Homo sapiens: one gene and its partners. The protein of the gene in region 4 interacts with the protein of the main gene of each other region in a pairwise test. Each region holds a gene or a part of one and is shown on either strand. Other genes may lie near its edges.

The links.
Region 1: the proteins of MMGT1 (region 4) and TMEM254 interact in binary tests that used the Homo sapiens proteins (3 or more experiments, as listed by UniProt).
Region 2: the proteins of MMGT1 (region 4) and PEX16 interact in binary tests that used the Homo sapiens proteins (3 or more experiments, as listed by UniProt).
Region 3: the proteins of MMGT1 (region 4) and RUSF1 interact in binary tests that used the Homo sapiens proteins (3 or more experiments, as listed by UniProt).

The regions. Positions count from the first base shown.
Region 1 is NC_000010.11:80,074,147-80,081,682, reverse strand, and holds the start of TMEM254 (transmembrane protein 254), read right to left. Parts: upstream 3,019-7,536; 5' UTR 2,984-3,018; coding exon 2,897-2,983; exon of another isoform or gene 2,658-2,896; coding exon of another isoform or gene 2,499-2,657; exon of another isoform or gene 2,490-2,498; intron 2,439-2,489; exon of another isoform or gene 2,003-2,438; coding exon of another isoform or gene 1,991-2,002; intron 44-1,990; coding exon of another isoform or gene 1-43.
Region 2 is NC_000011.10:45,909,138-45,914,888, forward strand, and holds the end of PEX16 (peroxisomal biogenesis factor 16), read right to left. Parts: intron 5,548-5,751; coding exon 5,467-5,547; intron 5,332-5,466; coding exon 5,179-5,331; intron 5,067-5,178; coding exon 4,994-5,066; intron 4,802-4,993; coding exon 4,682-4,801; intron 1,826-4,681; coding exon 1,761-1,825; intron 1,176-1,760; coding exon 1,117-1,175; 3' UTR 1,041-1,116; coding exon of another isoform or gene 952-1,040; 3' UTR 526-951; downstream 1-525. UniProt on the Homo sapiens protein: Required for peroxisome membrane biogenesis. May play a role in early stages of peroxisome assembly. Can recruit other peroxisomal proteins, such as PEX3 and PMP34, to de novo peroxisomes derived from the endoplasmic reticulum (ER).
Region 3 is NC_000016.10:31,491,388-31,498,423, forward strand, and holds part of RUSF1 (RUS family member 1), read right to left. Parts: intron 5,564-7,036; coding exon 5,462-5,563; intron 2,550-5,461; coding exon 2,479-2,549; intron 2,401-2,478; coding exon 2,216-2,400; intron 2,138-2,215; coding exon 2,080-2,137; intron 1,662-2,079; coding exon 1,591-1,661; intron 954-1,590; coding exon 810-953; intron 700-809; coding exon 622-699; intron 1-621.
Region 4 is NC_000023.11:135,960,068-135,964,004, forward strand, and holds the end of MMGT1 (ER membrane protein complex subunit 5), read right to left. Parts: 3' UTR 521-3,937; downstream 1-520. UniProt on the Homo sapiens protein: Part of the endoplasmic reticulum membrane protein complex (EMC) that enables the energy-independent insertion into endoplasmic reticulum membranes of newly synthesized membrane proteins.

The DNA of each region.
Region 1 (7,536 bases), on a different chromosome or scaffold from region 4:
TTCTTTCTTTTTTTTTTGACAGGGTCTCACTCCGCTGCTGGGGCTGGAGTGCAGTGGCATGATCATGACTCACTGCAGCCTCCACCATCTGGGCTCAATCCATCCTCCCACCTCAGCCTCCCAAGTAGATGGGACTACACGTGTGTGCCACCATGCCCAGCTACTTTTAAAAATTGTATATAGAGATGGGGTCTCACTATGTTGCCCAGGATGGTTTCCAACTCCAGGGCTCAAGCAATTCTCCAATCTTGGCCTCCCAAAGTGCTGGGATTACAGGCATGACCTACTGTGCCAGGATGACTTCTATTTTCTAAAAGCAACTCTACTGGGAGACTTATGCTGAGGAAAGTATGTGGTTATCAGACTCAGTGCCCACGGTGGATGACTCTTAAAGTCTTTTTTTCTTCCTTTTCTTCTTTTGTTTTCTTTGTAGAGAAGGGATCTCGCTTTGTCACCCAGGCTTGAGTGCAGTGGCCTGATCACGGCTCACTGCACCCTTGACTTCCCGGGCTCAAGCGATCCTCCCAACTCAGCTTCCCCAAGTAGCTGGAATACAGGCATGGCTACCACGACTGACTAATTTATTTATTTATTTATTTATTTTAGATGGAGTTTCACTCTGTCGCTTAGGCTGGAGTGCAGTGGCACGATCTCGGCTCTCTGTAACCTCCGCCTCGCGGATTCAAACGACTCTCCTGTCTCAGCCTCCAGAGTAGCTGGGACTACAGGTGCATGCCACCACGCCCAGCTAATTTTTGTATTTTTAATACAGACAGAGTTTCACCATGTTGGCCAGGCTGATCTCCAACTCCTGACATCAGGTGATCCGCCCTTCTCGGCTTCTCAAAGTGCTGGGATTACAGGTGTGAGCCACTGCCCATGGCTAATTTTGTGTGTGTGTGTGTGTGTAGAGATGAGGTTTTGCCATGTTGCCCAGGATGGTCTCGAACTCCTGGGCTCAAGCGATTTGCCCGCCTCGGCCTCCCAAAGTGCTGGGATTACAGGGGTGAACCACCATGCCTGGCTGACTCCTATTAATACATTCCACCAAAACCATTATTTTATAAAAGATATTAGCAAATTTTGAGTTTATGTGCTTTGGCTAGTTTCTTTACTGCAGAAACTGGCTCCAGCCAAACCTCTGTTTAATTTAGAATTCCTTTCTCGGCTTTCCCTTTTTGTACGGCTAAAACTGAGAATGATCCACTGCATAGAGATGGAAAATAAGTGAGATAAGGTTGTGACATTTTAATAGCAACTGCTTAATCACATAAATTTTTCGTAATCTTAACTTTCAGCCTCTGTATTGTAACTTCTGTCAGCTAAGACTTTTCTGAGAATAACTCAACAGTTTCAAAATGTATTGTCCCATTCAAATCTTTGTCAAGAGCAGTACTACCTCTCTCACGATGTTGTTTCACATCTGAAAGTTAAATAATGCACAAATATCACTGCATCCTCCCAAACCAAAGGGAAAGGGGAGCATCTGCCAGCTCCACAAGATCCCAATTTGAAGTCCCCAAAGCTTTCCTCCAACTATATTCTAACTAGTCACAGACACTAAATCGTAGAACAGAAATGCACCTTTGAAAATTTTCAGTTCAACACCTCCATTGTACATATGGGGAAATCAGGACATAGGTTGTCAGATTTGACACCAACAAACAACACTGTGGACAAGACAAATCTCCAATCTCCAGGATCTATTGGTATACCCAAATAGCTTCGCCTTCCTTCAAAATTTTACCACCTTATCACTTGACGTTAGGAGTTCGAGGCCAGCCTCACCAATACCCATGTCTACTAAAAACACAAAAAAATAGCTGGGCATAGTGTAATCCCAGCTACAGGTAAAGACATGAGAATCGCTTGAACCTGGGAAGCAGAGGTTGCAGTGAGCCGAGATCGCCCCACTGCACTCCAGCCTGGGTGACAGAGCGAGACTCCGTCTCAAAAAAACACAAAACTACCACCTTAGCCCCCAACCTACTTTTCCACGCATCTTTCTCGTTATCCTTTAAACAGATTATTTCTCAGCCAAACAAACGTCGCTCTTTTTCTAGGTACAGCTTTCTTCTTGCTTCCACACCTATGTCAGAACAGTTATAGCCTCTTTATCCTCCCTTACCACTTAAATCCTACCCATCCTTTAGATTTATCCCCGTTTTCCAAACAATTCCTATTGGCTCAAACATTCTGCTTCGGAAGCCCTATTCTGACTTGGCAGGCCTATGGCAGTCTGTTAACTTGACTTTCCGCTTCGTGAGAGGCTTAGGCTCGGATAACCCGTTAGTAACCATGCAGAGGTGAGGACCCAAAGACAGGAACACTAGAAAGCAGAAACTATCCTAAGAGCCCACCGAATTTCCGCTTACATGAGTAACCGAGACAACCGTCAGATGCGCGTGCGCACAGGCCCCGTTCCCAGAGCTCCCCTCGCCCTACGAGGGCCCGGCGGGCCAAAACAGAGGCCCGCCCCGCCCCACCCCACGCCTCACCGCGAAGTAGCCCAGCCCCAGGACTGTGACCAGAGAGGGCAAGGGTCTTGCTGGACGGAAATAGGCGGTAGCCGCATTGCTGGCCTCCGACTTCACCATCCTCTTGAAAAACCCAGACACAGAGTTGGCTGGGAGCTCCCCAGCCGTCCCCGCCCCCATATAAGAAAAGCCTGGCTAGCCGGTTTCTCAGGGCCCTGGGCGCCCGCCCAAGACCCTGGCGGACCAGTATGCTTGCTCTCATTGCGGAGTCTGGTCCCCTCCCCTCCGCTCCTAGCGCGCGGGAGTCGGGATTGTGCTTGCACGACTTCCCCCGGCCCGCGGCCTGTGAGCCCAGGTCCTGGGGTGAACCGAGCGCTCGCTCGTTCGTCAGACCGTAGCGCTCCAGCGGCTGTCCTTACTGTGTAGTAGCCAAAGCTGAGGGTGATGACTGTGAACCAGAACAGACTGCCTCGCTGAAAGTAGGTCGCGCCGGCTGCCGTAGCCATGGCTGCAACACCTCCCCGGGAGCGCGCTTCAGGACACCGTCGAGCGCGAGCGCGGAGGCAGGGCCGGGGCCGGCCCGCGCTCCCTCGCCATCCCCGCAGGGAGAAGATGGTGCTGGTTGGGAAGTCCCTGAGAGCGAGTCTCCCTGTCTGGCCCCAGTACAGGGGCCTTGGAATCACACCTGGGCTCAGGTCTGGAGGGCTGGTCATCATCTTGTAGGGGAGACACTCCTGTCACTTTTCTGGGTTTAAGATAAAGATGTTCGGGCTGGCGCGGTGGCGTGTCCCTGTAATCTCAGCACGTTGGGAGGCTGAGGTAGAAAGATCCCTTGAGCCCAGGAGTTTGAGACCAGCCCGGGTAACATAGCTAGACTCTGTCTCGAATGAATGAATGAATGAATGAGGTGTTGGAATAAATTCCAGCAATTTGGGAGGCCGAGTCGGGCAGATCACTTGAGGTCAGGAGTTTGAGACCAGCGTGGTCAACATGGTGAAACCCCGTCTGTACTAAAAATACAAAAAATTTGCTGGGCGCGGTGGTGCCTGCCTGTAGTCCCAGCAACTCCAGAGGCTGAGACAAGACTCTCTTGAACCTGAGAGGTGCAGGTTGCAGTGGGCCCAGATCACGCCACTGCACTCCAGCCTGGGCAACACAGCAAGACCCTGTCTCAAAAAAAAAAAAAAAAGATGGTGTTTTACTAAGAGTCTAATTTTTGAAGTTCTCTGTGCTGTGCACCTTGAGAAATAATGCTGTCCTCATTAGTTAAGATGTTTGGAACTATACAGCACCATGGTTATGAGCAGGGACTGTGAAACAGGCTGCCTGGATTTAAGTCCTGGCTCTGTCTCGGCTATTTGTGTAAGCTTAGATTAATTACTTAGCCCGGCTGTGTCTTAGTTTCTGTATCTGTAACATGAGGATATGCCAGTTTTGGGAACCTCAGGGTTTTTAGGGTGGGTTAAATGAGTTGATATCTGTAAAGAAAGCACAGCAGTGTCTGGCCCATAGTGCTTTGTAAGTGTGGGTGATTATCAATACTGCTGAGCCTTTAGCATGTGTGCCAGGCCCTGTGCGAACTGTTGTATCATCAATGAGCTGTGGGAGGTATATGCAGCTGAAGTGTCTGATTAAACACTATTTAATCATAGAAATAGAAAATCATAGAAATAGAAAAACTATTTCACCTGGGCCTTAAAAATGGGTTACTGGCCAAGCGCAGTGGCTCAAGCCTATAATCCTGGCACTTTTGGAGGCCGAGGTGGGTGGATCGCTCAGGAGTTCGAGACCACCCTGGAGAACATGGTGAAACCCTGTCTCTACTAAAATACAAAAAATTAGCTGGGGGTGGTGGCGCGTGTCTATAGTCCCAACTACTTGGGAGGCTGAGGCACGAGAATTGCTTGAGCACCGGAGGCGGAGGTTGCAGTGAGCCGAGATCCAATCACTGCACTTCAGCTTGGGCTATAGAGTGAGACTCCGTCAAAAAAAAAAAAAAAAAGTTACTATACTGTAGCTGGTATTTATTGAACACCTACTATGTTCAAGGCATTGTTCTAAGTACTATACAATAATTAACTAATTTAATTCTTAAAACAATCCTAGGCAGTAAACTATTGTCCTTATTTCAAAGAAGAAGAAACAGCACAGGGTCCTGTCATGCCCAAGTGGGTGAGGAATACTGGAAAACAATTGGCAGCTGAGTGTTCCAGTTCCAGAGAGGGCACTCTGGAACCAACCAAGGTTCTCTTTCCTCATTTTTTACGTGAGTATCTTGGGATATAAAGTCTTAAAGAATGAATTTCAGAATATGTGAGGAAATCCATTTCCCAGGTAGACCACAGTGCTCTTGAATATCAAGATTAACAGTAACAATTGTAACAATTGGTGTTTTCTTAGTCCTTATCATCCTTGATCACACCACCCTCTTTATTCTTCTCCTCCTTCTGAATAACTCCTTGTTTTCTCAGCTTTCCTTTTCTTTCTTCTCTCCTAGAATAAGTTTTGCTTATTATCTTCTTTGTGTTTTCAGTACCTATCAGATTCAATTTTCACCTTCAGCTGACTAAAATAATCTCTTCAGCCCTCACCTCTTCCCAGTTGGTCACCTTTACCAAAGATTACTCACACCTCAAAGACAAGAAGTCCATTATCATTATCCACAGAGTCCATCCTCACCAAGGCTACCCTGTCTGTGGTTTTTTTTTTTTTTTTTTTTTTTTTTGAGATGGAGTTTTGCTCTTGTTGCCCAGGCTGGAGTGCAGTGTTGCGATCTCGGCTCACTGCAACCTCTGCCTCCCCACTTCAAGTGATTCCCCTGTCTCAGCCTCCTGAGTAGCTTGGATTACAGGTGTGCACCACCACGCTTGGCTAATTGTGGAGACGGGGTTTCACCATGTTGGCCAGGCTGGTCTCGAACTCCTGACCTCAGGTGATCTGCCTGCCTCGGCCTCCCAAAGTGTTGGGATTACAAGTATGAGCCACCTCGCCCGGCCTACTCTATGTGAACAGCACTTTCTTTCTACCTTGTACCCAGATTCCTTGCTTTGACTTCCCCCATATCATATAAAGATTGCAGACTAATCAGCTGTCAAGAGTTCTACTGATTGGGTAATACAATATCTAATCCTTCTAGATTAAATCATGGCTTCATCTCCACTGTCTCATGAGTCAGTCACTCCTTCCTACTTCCTGCCACTTCAGCCCACATGCAGTCCCTTTATTGAATCTGTCTGACAAATAACAGGATCATCTTTTTCAAGTACAGTTCTGATCAAGCCTTTACCATACCAAAACTTTTTTTTTTTTTTGAGACAGAGTCTCACTCTATTGCTCAGATTGTAGTGCAATGGCGCAATCTCAGCTCACTGCAACCTTGGCCTTCTGGGTTCAAGTGATTCTCCTGCCACACTCTCTCTAGTAGCTGGGACTACAGTCACATGCCACCACACCCAGCTAATTTTTTGTATTTTTAGTAGAGATGGGGTTTCGCCATGTTGACCAGGCTGGTCTCAAACTCCTGACCTCAGGTGATCCACCTGCCTTGGCTTCCCCAAGTGCTGAGATTACAGGTGTGAGCCACCATACCCAGCCTACCTTACCAAAAGTTTCAAGAACTTCCCCAATTTTAGGCTGCCGTTTTTCAGTATTTCTATTTAGGTATTAAATCTGCAACGAGGGAGATATTGGAGAAATTATTCATGCTACAAGAAATGTTGGAGAGGCAAAATGGCTTCAGTCAACAGACTACAGGGAGCTAGGTTTTAGTTTCATGTCTTCTACAACCCTGCTTGGAGCCCAGCCTGTTACTTAGTGTCCTATGTCTTCCAACTCCACACTATTTTTTTTTTTTTTAATAGAGACGGTGCTTCACTATGTTGCCCAGGCAGATCTCAAACTCCCAGCCTTAAGTAATCCTTCCACCTCAGCCTCCCAAAGTGCTGGGATTATAGTTAGAGGCTGTACCTGGCCACCAACAGCTCAACACTAAACATCTTACTGTTAGCCCCTCACGCACAGATAAGGAATCCAGAAGACAGTACCAGAAGATCTTTGTTCAGATGTGAGTAGTTTATGTAAATTCATGAAGAACTTACAGTCAACTGGATGTTCAGAAGGCATTCCTTTCTTCATTACAGTCACCCTTCACACACGGCAGGGGTGACTGAATTCTCTAAGGTCCAGGCACCCTACACTGCTGTCCCATCTGAATTGGCAGAGAAATATCTCATCCCTGGACATTTTTATCCCCCTGTCTAGATGGATTAGTGACCTAAATATGAAAAATAATGAAGAAAGTCTGGGAGAATAGTTTTACAACTTTTGAGGGAGGGGAAGGAAACCTTTTAGCAAGTTATTAAAATTAAAAGCCATAGAAGGAAAGATTGAAAATTTAACTGCATCCAGATGAAAAGCTTCATTCATATGAATGACACTGTAAATAAAGTTGAAATACCTGGAAGAAGGAATTCTCCAATATATGTAATTGACAAATGATTAAAGGATATGAATTGGGCATCCTCAAAAGAGAAAACTTGAGACCAAGCAAAATGAAAGGATGGTTCAATCTTAATGGCCCTATGGGATACGCAAAATAAAGCAAAAATAACATTGTTTTTCCTCATAAGATTGGCCTACTAGATATCAAGACACACTGTAAAGAGCTATAATAATGTAAAACATTTGGCACTTGACATGCAGAAATCAACAAATGGATCAATGAAAAAATAATGCAGACTCCAGACATGGATCTGGTATATACATATCCAAGCGTTTATTTTATAATAAAGGTAACATTTCAAATTAAGGAAGGAATAATGGATTATTCAGTAAATTATTTTGGGGCAATTAGTTATCTATTCCAGAAAAAATATTTTAAATAATACTGTCCACTCCCAAACACAAATACACAAATGATGCAGTATCAAGAGATACAGAGGTATTAATAAGTAGTCCTCCTTGGGGAGTTATGATGAGGTGGCTATAGGATGGACAAGTGCTGAGATACAGCAAAAAACTCCCACACCTTCCCAGGATTATAGGATGGGGGAAGGGCGAC
Region 2 (5,751 bases), on a different chromosome or scaffold from region 4:
CCACATGCCTGTTTCCTCCGTTGGTGAGAGGCGGAGGGCAGGGGACTGTGCTTCACTGCTGGTTTCTGATGGCCAGGCATGTGCCCAGAAACGCCTGTTCCACTAAGCTGGAGGCCATGGGAGCCCAGGCAGCCCCTTCCCCTGCCTGTGGGTGAGGACCTGGGGGGCGCTCCTCAGAGGGCCCTGGGGAAAGCAGTGTGTCTTGGAGGAGCTGAGGCATGGAGGACCAAGGTGTAGATGGAGCCCTCTCTGTGGGTTTGAAACTCTAGCATGAGAGGCTGGCTCTTCACAGGGCCAGTGGCTGAGGACAGGCTAAGTTCAGGGAGAAGACGACCAGCCTGCGGCCCACCCTGTCCAGGCCCTCCCCCATAGCAGCTTGCATGGCTCCAGGTGGACCCGGCCTCTGGAGCCTGCAGGGCAAGCATGGGGAAACCCCAGCTCATACCCCCTGAACTGGCCCCGGCTTCCTCCCCGAGCCTGTCCAGCTCCCACTCCCTCCCCAGTGCTGGCCAGTGCCCGATGTCCTTTTTCTAAGGGAGAAAAGCCTTTTACTCTCAACCGAGGATGCAGGGCTTAAAGTGCCACTTGCGTGGGAGCCAGGCTCACTGTTCACCAGGCTCTGTCACAGGGAGGCTGGCAACGCCATGGCCTGGGGCTGCCAGAGCCACAGGGCCCTGCGGAGAAGGGGCAGACGGAGGGCCCCAGCCAGAAGACACGCTGGGCAGCGTTCAGCCATCACCCGGGTTCAGGCTTCCTGTCCTCACCAGGGGCCAGCGAGAGAGCAGCAGTGTTCGCTCCTATGGCTGCCGAGGCGAGCAGCTTCCCGGGCTCCATGAGGTGAAGTCACCGCTTTCTGTGGGAGAGGAGCCTGGATCCCACTCCTAGTGAAGGCTTCTTGGCCCAGCAGTGACAAGGTGCGGGCTGCAGTGGCATCGTCACAGGAGAGCGCAGTCAAGGGTGTCCTGGGAGGAACGCTGGTGGCGACCAGGGCTGTGTGTGGGGCCTGGCCGGTAGGCACGGAGAGGCCGCACGCTGGGACGCTGCCGGAGTCAGTTTTATTAGGGAAGAGGGGCTCCCTGCCCCACCCCTCCCCACACCCTCCTTCCGGGAGGTCTGTCAGCCCCAACTGTAGAAGTAGATTTTCTGCCAGGTGGGCAAGTAATCCATGAGCGGCCCTGCAGTGGGAGAGGGACACATCAGGGCAGGCCAGACCCCAATCTGCACTGTGGCGCCACATACAGCACCTCACCCCTGCGGCCCAGGAGCCAGCCCAGCTGGCTGTCTTGCCCTGCCCCCAGGAGGCAGCACTGCAGGGGACTCTGGCACCATTTACAAAGACCCTCAGGCCCAGAGAAGCTCAGCCAGGGTAGACACTGAGGGGCCTGAGTCAGGTCCAGTCACCCAACCCAAGCCCAGTGGGCCTCTGCTGAGGGAGGATCTCAGCAGCCCGGTGGACCCCTTCTCTGCCATTGAATCCCCCCAAGATGAGATGGTCCCGTATCGCTCCAGGATACTGTGACCAGAAAAAAGCTGGCAGCTGATGTGGTCCCCCCACCAGTGGACACCCTCCTTCCAGCCATCCCTGGCTCCTCAGGCCACCCTGGCCTATGCCCAGGGGCAGTCCCACCCAATCCTGACTTCCCGACTTCCTCTCCTGACTGTGCCAAGAATCAAATTGCAAGGAGACAGAGGAGTCAGGGAGGTGCTTGCATGCATGCGCCTTCCAGCACTACAGTCATCGCGTCCCCATCCCTGCTTACTTGTGACCAGGCCAACGCCAGGGACGTGGTCGGCCAGCAACTGGAGCAGGAAGAGGATCCTGGCCCTGGGGGAGGCAATAAATGGGGAGCAAGCTGAGTGGGGTGGGGGTGGGTCCCTGCAAACCAGGAGGCCCAGAGGCCTTCACTGACCACCGTGCCGAATGCAGCGCATTCCAGAAAACAAAGGTGACTTTCTTGGGAGCTAGGACAAAGCCCGGTACACAAGGGCAAGACCTCTGGGGTTGGCTCTGGCCTCCACCCTCCACCAGCTCAGCTTCGGGGTGGCCGCTGACCCACAACACCTCCTCCCATTCCTCTTTCCCCTTCCACCGACATCCAACACTGAAGGCCTCTAGAGGGTCGCATGTGGAGCAGCGCCCTGGCAGTATGGTGGAGGGTCCAGGGAGGACAACCCCACCCTGCCCTCGGGAAGCCCCCCAGTCTGGCAGAAGTGCTGGGCTGCATGGAAACCTCACAAGCCACCAATGAGAGTAGTCAGGACCTTGGTAGGGGACACAGTACTGAAGAGGGCACATTTTGGTTCAGGGGAAGGGGCAAGGCCCAAGGCCCTGATTTTTAAGACAGGAGGGTTTTCCACAGGGGAACTCGGGTGAGATGAGGATGCTGATGACAATACATAGCGCTACGTGCTTACTACACCCCACGCACTGCTGTACGCGTTAGTCACTGAACCCCTACAAAGTGGGTACTGTCATCATCCCCATCTTACAGGTGAGGAAATGAGGCACAGGCGCATCAAATAACTTGCCCAAGGCTACACATCTGGAAGGCGGCCTGACTCCTTATATGTCTGTCTGAGCAGCAAGAAAAGAGGAAGCCTGGGGGCCGGGTGTGGTGGCTCATGCCTATAATCCCAGCGCTTTGGGAGGCCAAGGCGGGCAGATCAATTGTGGTCAGGAGTTCGAGACGAGCCTGACCAACATGGAGAAACCCCATCTCTACTAAAAAATACAAAATTAGCCGGGCGTGGTGGCGCGCACCTGTAATCCCAGCTACTTGGGAAGCTGAGGCAGGAGAATTGCTTGAACCCGGGAGGCAGAGGTTGCGGTGAGCCGAGATCACGCCATTGCACTCCAGCCTGGGCAACGTGAGTGAAACTCCGTCCCAAAAAACAAAAGAAAAGAAAAGAAGAAGGCTGGCTGGGTGCAGTGGCTCCACCTATAATCCCAGCACTTTAGGAGGCCAAGGCGGGCCTTTGTTTCCCTAAAGGACAGGGAGCAGGGTCCAGAGAGGTGCCAGGGTGTGGTCCAGAAGGAGCAGCCTTACTCTTTTTTCTGTTTTAAAAAAAAGATGGGTCAGGCCAGGCGCGGTGGCTCACGCCTGTAATCCCAGAACTTTGGGAGGCCGAGGCAGGCGGATCACGAGGTCAGGAGATCGAGACCATCCTGGTTAACACGGTGAAACCCCATCTCTACTAAAAAATCAAAAAAAATTAGCCAGGCATGGTAATGGGCGCCTATAGTCCCAGCTACTCAGGAGTTGAGACAGGAGAATGGCATGAACCCGGGAGGCAGAGCTTGCAGTGAGCCAAGATTGCACCACTACACTCCAGCCTAGGCAGGCAACAGAGCCAGACTCCATCTCAAAAACAAACAAACAAAAAAAGACAGTGTCTCGCTCTGTCACCCAGACTGGAGTGCAGTCGCGCGATCTCGACTCACTGCAACCTCTGCCTCCTGGGTTCAAGCGATTCTCCTGCCTCAGCCTCCTGAATAGCTGGGACTACAGGCGTGTGCCATCACACCTGGCTAATTTTTGTATTTTTAGTAAAGACAGGGTTTCACCATGTTAGCCAGGATGGTCTCTACCTCCCGACCTTGTGATCCGCCCGCCTCGGCCTCCCAAAGTGTTGGGATTACAGGTGTGAGGCATCGTGCCTGGCTAAACTATGCCAGTTTTGTTTTTTTTTTTCTGTTTTGTTTTTTTGAGACAGGGACTTACTCTGTCACCCAGGCTAGAGTGGGATGGAGTGATCATAACTCACTGCAGCCTCAGCCTCCTGGCCTGATCCTCATGCCTCAGCTTCCTGAGTAGCTAGGACTTACAGGCGCACACCACCATGTCTGGCTAATTATTATTATTTTTTTTTTTTTTTTGTAGAATTGGGTTGCCCAGGCTGGTCTCGAACTCCTGGCCTCAAGCCAACCTCCTGCCTTGGCCTCCTAAAGTGCTAGGATTATAGGTGTGAGCCACTGCTGCCCAGCCTATGCCAGTTTTTAAGCTATTATTAGGTCCTAGACAAAGGGGGTCCCGGGAGCCTTGTCTGCCTCACAGTCCCAGCCACTGCACAGGGTTTCCCCCTGTCAGACTGTGGTCTAACCTCAAGCAGTCATAGTGGCAGGCCTGTGGAAGAACTAGTCCCAAGCTGCCCCCTGCTCAACCCAGCAGGCCTCTCTCAGGCTGGGAGCTCTGGACCCTCGCAGGTGACTGAGTGGGGGCTGGGCCAGGCAGGGAAGGCCAGGGGAGATCCTGGGTTTGGGATCTAGCTCTACCACTGGCTAGCTGGGTGTCTTTAAGTTGCCCAACCTCCTTGAACCTCCAGGTCCTCCTCTGAGAAGTGAGGATAAGCCAAACTATTTGGCAGGAAGAAGTGGAAATGAGCTAGAGGCCATGGGCGCCCGCCCTGTCGCCATCCCTGTGGGCCACCTGGCAATGCCCTCAGCCCTGCCCTCAGTGCCTCTCCTGCCAACCAATGTTTAAGTTCCTGCTCAAGTGGCCTGATGGCCCAGAGAGCTCTGCGGGCGGGACTGGGCTGGCATCTGGTGACTGCCACCCGGACAACACACAGTGCTTGGTGAACCCTGGATGAGGCGTGGGGAAGGGAAGGCGCCAGCAGGGACCGGAGCACCAGTGCCCGCTTGCCAGCCCTCTCCCTGGCTCAGGGTGTCCTGGGTGCTTACTCGGAGAAGCGGTCATAGAAAGGAGAGCGCAGCAGGTAGTAGAGCAGCAGGATGGTCCGGCGCCGCAGCTCCCGCCGCTCCCTCCGGGTCAGGCCCTTTCTGTCACTCAGGAGGCTCAGGCTGGGAGGCAGGGAGGACATGGTCAGGGCCAGGGGCATGATCTAGGCCCACGGAAGGGGAGGAGCCATGGGCTGGGTGTCCAGAGGGGCAGCAACAGGAGGAGCAGGGGCCGCTGCCACCCCGCCTATGTGAGGCCAGGATTATAGCAGAAAGCCCAGTGGAGAGTGAAGCCCCAGGCAGGCCCAGGCTCACCTGGTCACGTCCACAACACCAGCCAAGAGCCAGGGTTTCCACGACCTCTGACCCCACAGGCCCAGGCTGAGCACTGACGGCCAAGGCGTCAAGGATGTCTCCAGCACAGGGGCCTTGCTCAGCACACTCCCCACTCAATCCCCAGCCCACAGTGCCAGCCCTATCCTGCCCCGCGCTAAGGATACAGTGCAGCAGCGGCCGGGCAATGTACAAAAACTCTGCGATGGTCTCCTGCAGCCCCAGGGGGGTGGGGGTCGCACTCAGCTCCTCGTGATGCTGCTGCTGCCGTCCCTCCCGCTGCTGGGGAGCTCCCCAGTGCCTGGAGTGCAGGGACGGCGCTAGAACACAAGGGCGGCAGATGAGCGAGCCAGGCCCAGGCTGGGGCAGGGGAAGGTGGCTGCTGACCAAAGCCAGTCCCTCAAGCCCAGGCAGACAGCACCTAGGTGCCCAGGCCAGCCACATCCTCCACTTACTGTTCTGGAGGGTTCGCACCACCCGGTTTGACCGCTTCCCCACGTAGGACTGCTCATGGTTGCCAGGGCTGTGGTCACCATCTAGCAGGGATAGACAGAAGGCCATACAGTCAGAGGGACATGCTTCCAGCGGAGCCTGCAAAGAACGTGTGCAGTGAATGCTCAGGAGCTAAGGGGAGAACAGATGAGCTTGTACTATGGCAACAGCTGAGTCAAGGGAACTACAAGCAGGGTGGCGGCTCAGCACAAGACCCGTCCACAGAGGAAAGCACTCTGCAGCCCTCC
Region 3 (7,036 bases), on a different chromosome or scaffold from region 4:
GGACTCACTGCAACCTCTGCCTCCTAGGCTCAAGTGATCCTCCCATCTCAGCCTCCTGACAGTCCCACAGGCGTGCATCACCATGCACAGCTAATTTTTTTATATTTTTGGTAGAGACAGGGTTTCACCATGTTGCCCAGGCTGGCCTTGAACTCCTGAGCTCAAGTATCTGCCCGCCTTGGCCTCCCAAAGTGCTGGGATTACAGGTGTGAGCCACTGTGCCCGACAGTCTTTTTTTTTTTTTTTTTTTTGAGAGAGGGTCTTGCTCTGTCACCCAGGCTGGTACAATCATGGCTCACTGTAGCCTCGACCTCCCCCAGTTCAGGTGATCCTCCCACCTCAGCCTCCTGAGTAGCTGCAACCACAAGAGCAGAACCACACCTGGCTAATTTTTGTGTTTTTTTTGTACAGACAAGGATTTGCCATGTTGCCCAGGCAGGGTCTCAAGCAATCTGCCCACTTAGGCCTCCCAAGGCACTAGAATCATAGGTGTGAGCCTCTGCACCAGGCCCAAGAACCCAAGTCTTTTACCTTTCAGGTGAAAGGGTGGGAGTGGGGGAAGGCGGGGCCCCCAGGGACAAGGCTTCAGGGGCCAAGCAGCCATGGGCTGAGGGATGTTACCTTTCAAGAACTTTGGGAACAGCATGTCCAACACTTCGTGTGTCTCCTTGACGACGACCCAGCTCTCTTTCTTAGGACCTGGGTACGGGGGTGCAGAACCAGAAGCTCTGTGTCCTCCAGCAGGACAGAGTTTGTCCTCTCTCCTCCCCACCCTGAGGCATCAGCAGTCTAAATCTTGAGGCACTTACCTGCCCGCACCCGGTTCCTCAGCTCCTCCAGCTCTGCTGGAAGGGGTCCATCTCCCTGCAGGGCCCCAAGCATCAGCCCATGTGTGGCGGCCCTTAGGATGGTCTTGGGGCCTGCCTTCTGGTTCAGAACTACCTGTACCTGGTCTGGAGGGACCCAGAGACAGACTGGTATCAGGGAAGGGCCACCTCCCAAACCCCTTCTATCCCATCACCCTGCTTCCCCTGTCTGCCCCAAGACCTTGGCCTGGCACGGAAGGCTAGCACCTCACCCTTTCCTTTCCAATTCATCTCCTGTTGCTCCCCAATGTTCGGGCCAAACTGACCAATTTCCAAATACAATTTCCCAGCCGCTCACTGGGCTGGGTCTATTTTGCATTTCTTTAATGGCTAGTGAGAATAAGCACCTTTTCACACTCAACCAGCGGACCAGCACACTCAAGGACTTGTTTACCCAAGAGGCAACCCAGGATGGAGAGAAGGGTGGTTTCCCACGGACAGCAAAGGTCATAGCCTTCCTAAGAGTGCTGCAATGTAGCTTTGCAGTCACATTATTTGATCCTCATAAAAACACCGCAAGGAATAAGGCAGGTACTGTTAGCTCTGTTTTACAAAGCGGTGACATGAATTTCACTGGGGCATTGCAGCTGTAATTTGAACGGTCTAGAGCAACCCCCAGAACAGGCAGCCTCCAAACTGCCCAGAGCTCGGGGCCCTAGGTTGGAGGAATGAGAGGCTGACCTGGGAGGGTGCGTCTTAGGCTGGGAGAATGAGGCACACTCACTTTGTGACTGGTCCCAGCAGAGGAGGTAGGATTCTTGGTGCCCCTCAACCAGCTGCTGCAGCTCAAAGACACTGTGGGGGAGAGGACAGTGCAGTGGGGGTGGAGGACAGCAAAGGCAGGCATGCCCAACCAGCCACTGAACAGCCACCCAGTGAACTGAAATGATCCAGGCTTCACTCAGGTCCCCTCGCTTCCTCTCTCCCTCAGCCATTACCCATACACACCAAATCCATCCTTTCTTCCTGTATCCAGTCATCCAACTTCCCCATCTACCCATCCTTCCTTCACCCATCAAGCACATCTCTTACATCTGCTTCATGTTATACACCCTTTCCTTCCTCACACACCCACACCAACCCCATGTCTGTTCAGCAGCAATGAAGAACCCAGGACAGAGAGGTGGGGCCTTGCCAGGGAGGCCAGTGTGTAATCGGAGTGAGGGGAGTGTGGGTGGCGGTGGTGACGAGCGGGAGACGCTAGGCCACTCACCTGGAGACCAAGCGGTGTAAGGGGACCCCCAGGGATAGAGACGGAGCTGGCCAGAAACCTGTGGGAAGCTGGGGTCAGGATGCCTAGGCAGTGGGAGAGGTTGAGACACAGGACCCGAGACCAGGGGCAGGGTCACCTGTCCACAGCGGCTCCATGCGATTGGCTGCAGTTGGGTCGAGTACCTCTCCCCTCTGAAGGTAGTGCTTCAGGACCAGCCGGAGCCGGCCTTCGTTCAAGGTCTCCATGACCAGGGCTCGGACCGCGCGGTAGTTGGCGTAGATGTGGAGGGCAGTGAGGAAGAAGAAACATCCAAGGCTGAAGCTGGGGTGAGAGAGTGAGGTAGCTGAAGTGGGCAGAGGCCCAGCTGGGGTTCTCCTGCCCACCCTGCTTCCGGCTTACCCAGGGCAACCTGACACCAGAGGGAGCATCAGGAGGCTGACCAAGAGCCCCGCCAGGTTCACCAGCGTCTCCTGGAAAATGGCAGAGGGAGAAGGAGTTGGAAGGTGCCCCTCCAGGCCAGACTGAGTGCCCGAGTGCCTTTCACCTCATCCTCCCTGCTCCACAACCTCCCAGGGCTCCTTACTGCAATGTGGGTAAATTTTTAGTTTTTGGTGGGTGAAATGTCATTTAAAAGATGCCAGCTCGAGGTGGCTCACACCTGTAGTACCAGCACTTTGGGAGGCTGAGGTGGGCAGATCACTTGAGTCCAGGAGCTTGAGACCAGCTTGGGCAACATAGTGGGACCCTATTTCTACAAAAAAATTAAAAATTTGGTGGGGCATAGTGGCTCGCGCCTGTAATCCTAGCAATCTGGGAGGCCGAGGTGGGCAGATTCCCTGAGCTCAGGAGTTCAAGACCAGCTTCGGCAACACGGTGAGACCCATTGCATTTTTGTAAAAATACAAAAAACTAGCCAGGTATGGTGGCGCGTGCCTCTACTCCCAGCTACTCAGGAGGCTGAACTGCTTGAGCCTGGGAGGTGGAGGTTGCAGTGAGCTGAGATCACGCCACTTCACTCCAGCCTGGGCAACAGAGCAAGACTGTCTCCAAAAAAGAAAAAAAAAAAAATTAAGCCATGATTGCACCACTGTACTCCAGCCTGGGAGACACAGTGATACCCTGTCTAAATACATATGTGTATCAGTTGCTTTTTTGCCCAGGTAGGTGCCCTCGGAATACCCTTGAACACATCTTGTCTTGCAAGTCACCAGAACAGACCCACACTCAGGCACTCACTAATGTGTACTTTTTTTTTTTTTTAAAGAGCGAGGGTCTCGCTCTGTCACCCAGGCTGGAGTGCAGTGGTGCAATCATAACTCACAGCCACCTCAAACTCCTGAGCTCAAGTGATCCTACCACCACGCCTCTGCTAATTATTACTGCATTTTTTGGTAAAGATGGGTCTTGCTATATTGCCCAGGCTGATCTTGAACTCCTGGGCTCAAGCAATCCCCACCTCAGCTTCCCAAAGTGCTGGGATAACAGGCATGAGCTGGAATAACTTTTATTTACTGATTTTAAAAAGTTGACTGCTCCCCTCCCACCAAGCTCCTTTGGTATGCAGTAACTGGCAGATAGATTTGCAAAGGGGTCAAGGAACCACCCGGGAAGAAAAGGAACAAGACCCACACCTCTTCCCTTGTGTATCAATGTTAGGAGAACACTCTGATGGCTGGATTGAGATCACTCTAGGGGAAGGGACCCCAGGCTACCTGCCCCCAACTCATCATGAGGGAGGAGTCTGGATTGGTGCCCCTGACTACTGGGCTCCCAGGGAGAGCTGGTCCTGGCATAGAGAGGACCCGAGACTGGAGAGCTCTTCTCAACCAGCCCTCCTGGGAAGGGCATATGCTGTGGGAATAAACGCTGTGGGTGTGGCAGGAAACTGGGGATCAGGGACCTGGGGAGTTCAGGAGCTCCTCTCTCCCAGGTGGGAAGAGTCATTTCCAGTGGCCACATCCAGTGACAGCAAAGCTGCACTGGCAGAAAGCTGGAGTCTGCTGCGGGACTGACACATTCCCAGGTTAGTCCCGGATATGTCCCTGGCTCTGTGGACCGAGGAAGCCCTGGGGTCTTGGGAAAAATGGCTTGGGGTTAGGGGGAGGTCTGGGGACCAGCGAGAGAACAGGAGAGGGACACCAGGCATGGAGCTGGGAGTCCTGCGGTGAGGGACCTGTGCTGTGCTTCCTGCTTGCTCCTTAACAGCCTGTGGACTTAGGTTCAGAAGAGACAATGGGTGGAATAAGCCCGAGCATCCTGAGAGAAGGGACTTCCCCAGGGGCCCCCAGGGAGATGGGACCTCTCCATGCTTTATTTCTTCATCTGTACTAAGGCAACCATGAGCATTTACTGCACATGCCCACTGTGAGAATTTAAAGAGTTCCCAGAACCAAAATACTTGGCACATGGTTAGTGCTTAATAAATATTAGCTTGGGTTAAGATTATTGAGCCAAACAATGGAAGAGAAGGCCAGAAAGTAGGAATGCACAGAACAGCAGTTTCTAAATTGCTTCAGTGTCAAAGAAAACCATCTCACACTTCTGGGACTTCCCTGGGCCTTAATTTCCTCATCTGTAAACTAGGGATAAAGTAGTACCTACCTCAAAGGGTTGGTGTGAGAGTTTGTTTGTTTTTGAGACAGGGTCTTGCTCTGTCACCTGGGCTGGAGTGCAGTGGGGTGATCTTAGCTCACCACAGCCTCCACCTCCTGAGCTCGAGGCTGGGACTACAGGTGTGCACCACCACACCTAGCTGAAGTTTCTTTTATATATTATGTAGAGATGGGGTCTCGCCGGGTTGCCCAGGCTGGTTTCAAACTCCTGGCCTCAAGTGATCCTCCCACCTCAGCCTCCCAAAGTGCTAGGATGACAGGCGTGAGAGTTAAGTGATGCAGTACACGTAAGCACTCAGCACGGGGTTTGTAGAGGTCTAATCCATGCGGAGTTCAGCCTTAGGGGTGTCCCTACCCCAACTCCAGGCTCCCTAGGGTGGGCAAGGGGGCTGGGCCAGCAGGCCTGCTAAACTGCTGAGTGGAGGCCCCAGCCAGTGACCCAGCAACCCCACATGCTGGGTAACTCTGACTTGCCAATTGCCTTGACATGTGGGGCCTCATGTGATCAGAACATCCAGCTTGCACGGTGGGGTCTGAAGAGGGCAAGGCTGAGGGCTTGCTCTCAGCCACACAGGTGGCGGGCAGGGCCTGAGATCAGCTCGGACTTGCCGCCACCAGAGCCCAAACCCCTACTCCTGCCTGGGTGTCTTGAGTCAGCAGGGAGCACCCATACTTCTTCCTGTGTGTTCCTGGGCCCTCCAGGGCACTCAAGTGGCTTCTCTCCCCTTCCCCTCCCCACTCCACGCCCTCCCTCCAGCTCTGGCACTCACCTGGCTGCTGTCCTTGGCTGACACGTCAGCCATGTTGTTCCTCCGAGCCTGGTGCACGGTCAGGGCAGCCCGAGTGGCCCCACCAGCAACACTCACGATGCACTGGGTGGGAGGGGAAGAGAGAAGGTTGGCAGAGACACGTGTCCTGGTAACACAGGCACTCAGACCAGCTGGAGAAAACCTGGCCCCGGCCAAACTCTGAATGCTGTCCTTGGCATCTAGTTCTCACCTTGATGCCCCCTAGGCTCAACTTCCCTGTCCTGTTCTAGGAAACTGGAGTCCCACCTGCCACTATCACCTTGGGGACTGGCCTCACAGAAGCTCAATTTCATTCCCCAAGGTGGAGGCCCAAAGATCATTCTCAGCCCAGAACTCCCAGCCCTCCAGCTCCTGCTTGGGCTATACCCTCCCCATTACTGGCGGGAGGCTCAGGCTGGTTTCCAGCTTCATGCTTACATCTGCCTCCTGTAATTCCTCTACTCTCCTCCTGCCCCAGTTAAAGCTGTCGAAACCTACACTGATGGCCCTGACCTCCCAGGGTACCCAGATCTCTCCCTCTGAGATCGCAGGATAAAGCTAATCAAGGAGGGTCACTGGTCACTCACAATCATCCCGAGTTCATCAAAGCTCTTTTACTTATTACTATTTTTATTTATCCTTAGTTTTTGAATACAGACAGAGTCTCCCTGTGTTGCCCAGGCGGGCCTGGAACTCCTGGGCTCAAGAGATCTTCCCACGCCAACCTCCCAAAGTGCTGGGATTACAGGCGTGAGCCACCGCCCCTGGCTGAGGGCTCTTTTAGATGCCAGACATAGACTTAGGTGCTGTGATACAAGTCAGACCCAGGCCCTGCCCTCATGGAGCATACAGATCAACAGATAATAAACAAATAAACAAGTTAATACGCAGGCAGAGGAAACAGTCTGTTCAAAGGCCAGAGGAACGAGGGACAAAGTGAGGGCGAAGTGGCTGGCAGGGACCTGACCACACGGAGCCTGGCAAGCCTGGTGAAGGTCTTTCCCTAAGAGCAATGGAGCAGCAGAGTGACCTGATTGCTTTCCTCTTTGAAAGGATCACTGGGCTGCTCTGAGAGAGGAGCGGCACGGAGGCTACCTGGGAAGCAACGGTGCTCTCTCAGCAGTGAGAGGTGGTGACAGGAAGATGGAGGAGAGAATGGACTGGAGATTTTGAGGAGGGAAAAATAACAGAACTGAAGGTTCAGCCGAAGGTGACAGATAAGGGGAAGGGGGAAGAGGAGGAGGTGGTGGCAGTGGTGGTGGCGGCAGCATAGATGACAGCCAGGCTGGCTTCTCTTGGTGCAGCTGGAGATGGAGGTTGTGGAGAGGGGAACTCTAGAGAGGGGTCTTAAGAGGGAAGCTCATGGCCCTGTTCCATTCCCTTGTTGGACAGATGAAGAGACTGAAGTCTCAAAGGCAGAGTTTGAAGCAAAAGCCAGATGGCACAACCCTCGGTCCATAGCTACAGCCATGCTTTTCTCTGGGGTTTCCTACCCTGTTTAGGGGTGCTCGTAGCATTTAGGCTTGCAACCAAGGAAGCTAAATGTCCTCTACCACA
Region 4 (3,937 bases):
GCACATCTGGAGAGAGCAAAAGCAACAGTGGTAAAATGTTAAAAATGGTGAACCTAAATGAAAAGTATACTGGTGTCCATCCTATTTTCTTTCACATTTTCTGTAGATTTGAAATTTTTCAAAATTAAATTTCAGGGAAAATATAATTTTAGATTTGGACAAAATGATATGAAAGCTTATCTGAAAAAAATAAACATGCAGTAACTAGAAAAAATTCCTAAAAATGAGGTATGGACTAGCAATACCCAAGACAAAAATATATAACAATTTAAAATAATTAAAAGACTCGTATTTTTTGCAACAGACTACAGAACCCAGAAGCATATCTAACCAGACATATGGAAATTTGATGTATGAATGAGGATGATGGTTTTTCCAATCAGTGTTGAAAAAGTTAATAAATGGGGTTAGAATAGATTGCTATTGGAGAGAAAAATGTTGAATCCTCTCCTCACTCTTACTACCTAGACAAATTCCAAATGAATCAAAGATTTAAAAGTTGAAAAAAAAACCTTTAAAATACTGGAAAAATACATTAAATTTATTCTTAAATGCAAAGGTGGCCTTTCTAAGCAAGGCAAAATCTCAGAAGCTGTAAAGACTAAGTTTAACTACATAAATAAAACTTAGGAAAATATTATTAAACATGACAATGGACCAATTTTCTTAGCTTACAAAAAGCTCATACAAATCAATAAAACACATACCACCTAATAGAAAACAGAACATGACTACACATTTCACAGGAAATATCAGTAATCAATAAACATGAAAATGTGTTCCATCTCCTTCATTAAAATGTACCAGACCTTCATTAAAATGCATTAGAACTTCATTAAAACGCAAGATACCATTTATTCACTTTCACATGATCAGACTTCAAAAGTTTAGTACCCAGTATTGGCATGGGTTTGGTAAATAATCATTCTCATACATTATATGTGGAAGCATACTGGGCAAAGATTTCTAGAGGACAATTTGGCAGTAACTACTGAACTGAAAATAAAAAATACCCTCTGATCCAGCAATTGTATTGCTAGGTACACTGTAGAATAAAAACTCATTATATGTACAAGTATATTCACCACAATGTGATTTAATATTGGAAACAACCTAAAGAGCCTATCAGTGTTTGAACATTTGTAACACATTCAAACATTAGAATACCACACAGCCGCTAAAAATAATGAGGTATTTTTATATATACTGATACAGAAAGATCTCATAAAACACAGGTAGCAAAAAAAGCAAGGTACAGAAGAGTATATATAGTCTGATTCTATTAATGTGAAATTTTTAAAGTACAAATTTGCTGATAAAAAATAAAAAATTGTTTTCCTGTGAGTACAAGACACTTGAAACTGGTTACTTTTGGAGAGGAGTATTAGGGTAGGAGGGAAGGGACCAAGTTTTTATACCTTTCTGTACCATCTGATCTTTTCGCCATGTGCATACATCATCTTTCTTGCCCCCACTCCCCTTTCTAAGAACACTTAATTAACAGGTTATTTTGAGATATTCCTAGGTAGGTTTGAATACCGGTGGTGTTATTTTTCAAAATACTGTAGATAAGTGCCAAGTTTTGCAATTTAGAACTTCCCCTTGGATTTTCATTAAACTTTATATTTGCTTCCTTGATGCTTTAATCATAACGATTTCCTATTAAGTATAAAGTGACACTTTCAATGGGAGTTTGGCTTTATAACAAATTTGTGATGGAATCATTAGACACTGCTGCTCAAGAACCCATTTTTACACCCCAAAGGGCATTTGATGATTTATAAACATCATCAAGATTATACATTCTATTTTGACTATTAAAAACATAAAACTGCAGTAAGATTTTACATGTACAATTAAATTATCCATTGAATTCAGTAAAACAGCATCACAGTAGAAAAATACAGTCATAAAATTAGCTCTTACATTTTTCTGGGGACAGAAAAGCAGAAGAAATGAGATTAAAAGTCCAAAAAAAAAAAGCCCAAAAAACACTACCAAAAACAGGGTGAGACAATCATTTATTTATTGGACAGGGCAAGGTCATTTAAAGATTGGAAACATATCCCAAAAACACGTGTTTAGTTTGGTGTTACAGGCATTGATGCTCACAACAAACAACATTATTCAATACATCATGTAAACAGGCCACATACAACCAGGAAGATGCTGTCAAGCCACTGAGAAGCCACAATGCTTAGAAAACAATCATTAGGGAGTTACAGAGAATAATCACCTCCAACTCATTGATATGCATATTCTGCGGCTGCACAGTATTTGGCTGGTTCCCTGGTTATTAAGTGAGTCGTTCCGTATTTTAAAGAGCCTTGATTGGTACACACTTCTGAATATCACTGAAATCAGTCAAGCAAAGGCTTAACTAGCTCACATCATATTTTTGAACTACCCTAGGCAATAATTGACTGTCTCACAGTACTGTAGATAAAATTCTGTACTTAGCATATTTAGCAGTGTTACAACGCATCCAAATCACCTTTAAGTCCTATGGTACATACTTGAAAAAGACAGCAGAAACTCACTGGAGTAAATGAAAAAAGAAATTTGGGGAGCTCACCTGGCCTGAGGTATACAAGCTGCTAGCAAAGATAGACACACGTGAAAACCACTTTGTCAATTATTTGCCAAGTCATTTGGCCTGATTTTTGGCCTGATTTTTAGCCTGATTTTTAGCAGGACTCTTCCCGACTGAGGAGGCAAAGATTTCAACATCCATTCTAGAGACTAGCCACAGTATTATAAGTAGTAATATATCATAAATGCTTGGTTATGAGGAAAAACTACTCAGCATAAGATTCACGGAGAAAAACCTGTTAGGTATCTGGCCCTCTTGCCTGAAATCTATTGATTTTACCAACCACTCCCTTTCACAGCAATAAGAGTTCTCAAGATGAGAAGAATTTTCTCACTCCATATAGAAAATCATATTTGGGAAGCCAGTCCCAAAAGACCGAATATTGTAGAATTCCATTTATATGAAATGACCAGAATAAGCAAATCTACAGAGAGAGAAATAGATTAGTGGTTGCCAGGGGCTCGGGGATGGGGTGGGCACTGGGAGAAAATGAGAGGTGACTGCTCAAGGGTACAGGGTTTCTTTTTGGGGTAACGAAATGTTCTAAAATTGACTGTGGTCACGGTTACACAACTTTGTGAATACACTAAAAACCACTAAATTGTACCCTTAAAATAAGTGAATTGTAAGGTATGTGAATTATATCTCAATAATGTTACAAACATATTAAGAAACGAAGACATACCCCAAAGAGAAGGAAACAAGAGGCTCTTCCAAACCAAATCGTACCAGAAGAAAACAGTAGCCAAGTCTGATGGAAGGAGCTTGTTTCTTGCATGCTATTTTATCATCATCACTTTAACCCGATTTCACATTTTTAATTCATTTCTAAATTATTTTAGGTTATCGGCAGATTTCTAACTTTGTTCTCATTAGAGAGCAGAGTCAGTGTTCCGCAGACAGACTGGGCTGGCGTAACAAACCAAAACTAAACAACAATAAAAACCCAATGAAAAATAATCTCATGCTTTGGGGCTATGTGTTACCAGTCAGAAGAGAAGAGCTGATGTCCATTTCTAAAGGAAAATAAAATGCCTACAAGTACAATGGCATCTTATGACTCATGCCTAAAGCACATTTCCTTTTCAAACCTGCATACAGTTATTCCCTTTTTACACCTATACAATTCAACAAAAGCAATGTTTTTATACCTGTACAATCCAAAAAAAGCAACGTTCTCTACAAAGAAATGTTGAGCTTCCTACAGCTCTCTAGCTCAAAGAGCTAGCCAATTTCCTTAAAAGTAAAATTACTGTTTCTAAAAATATCAACTCTGTATCCTCATCCTCACTTTCAGCAACATACAGTGAAGATGGAAAACTTGAAGACTGCTATAAACCAGAA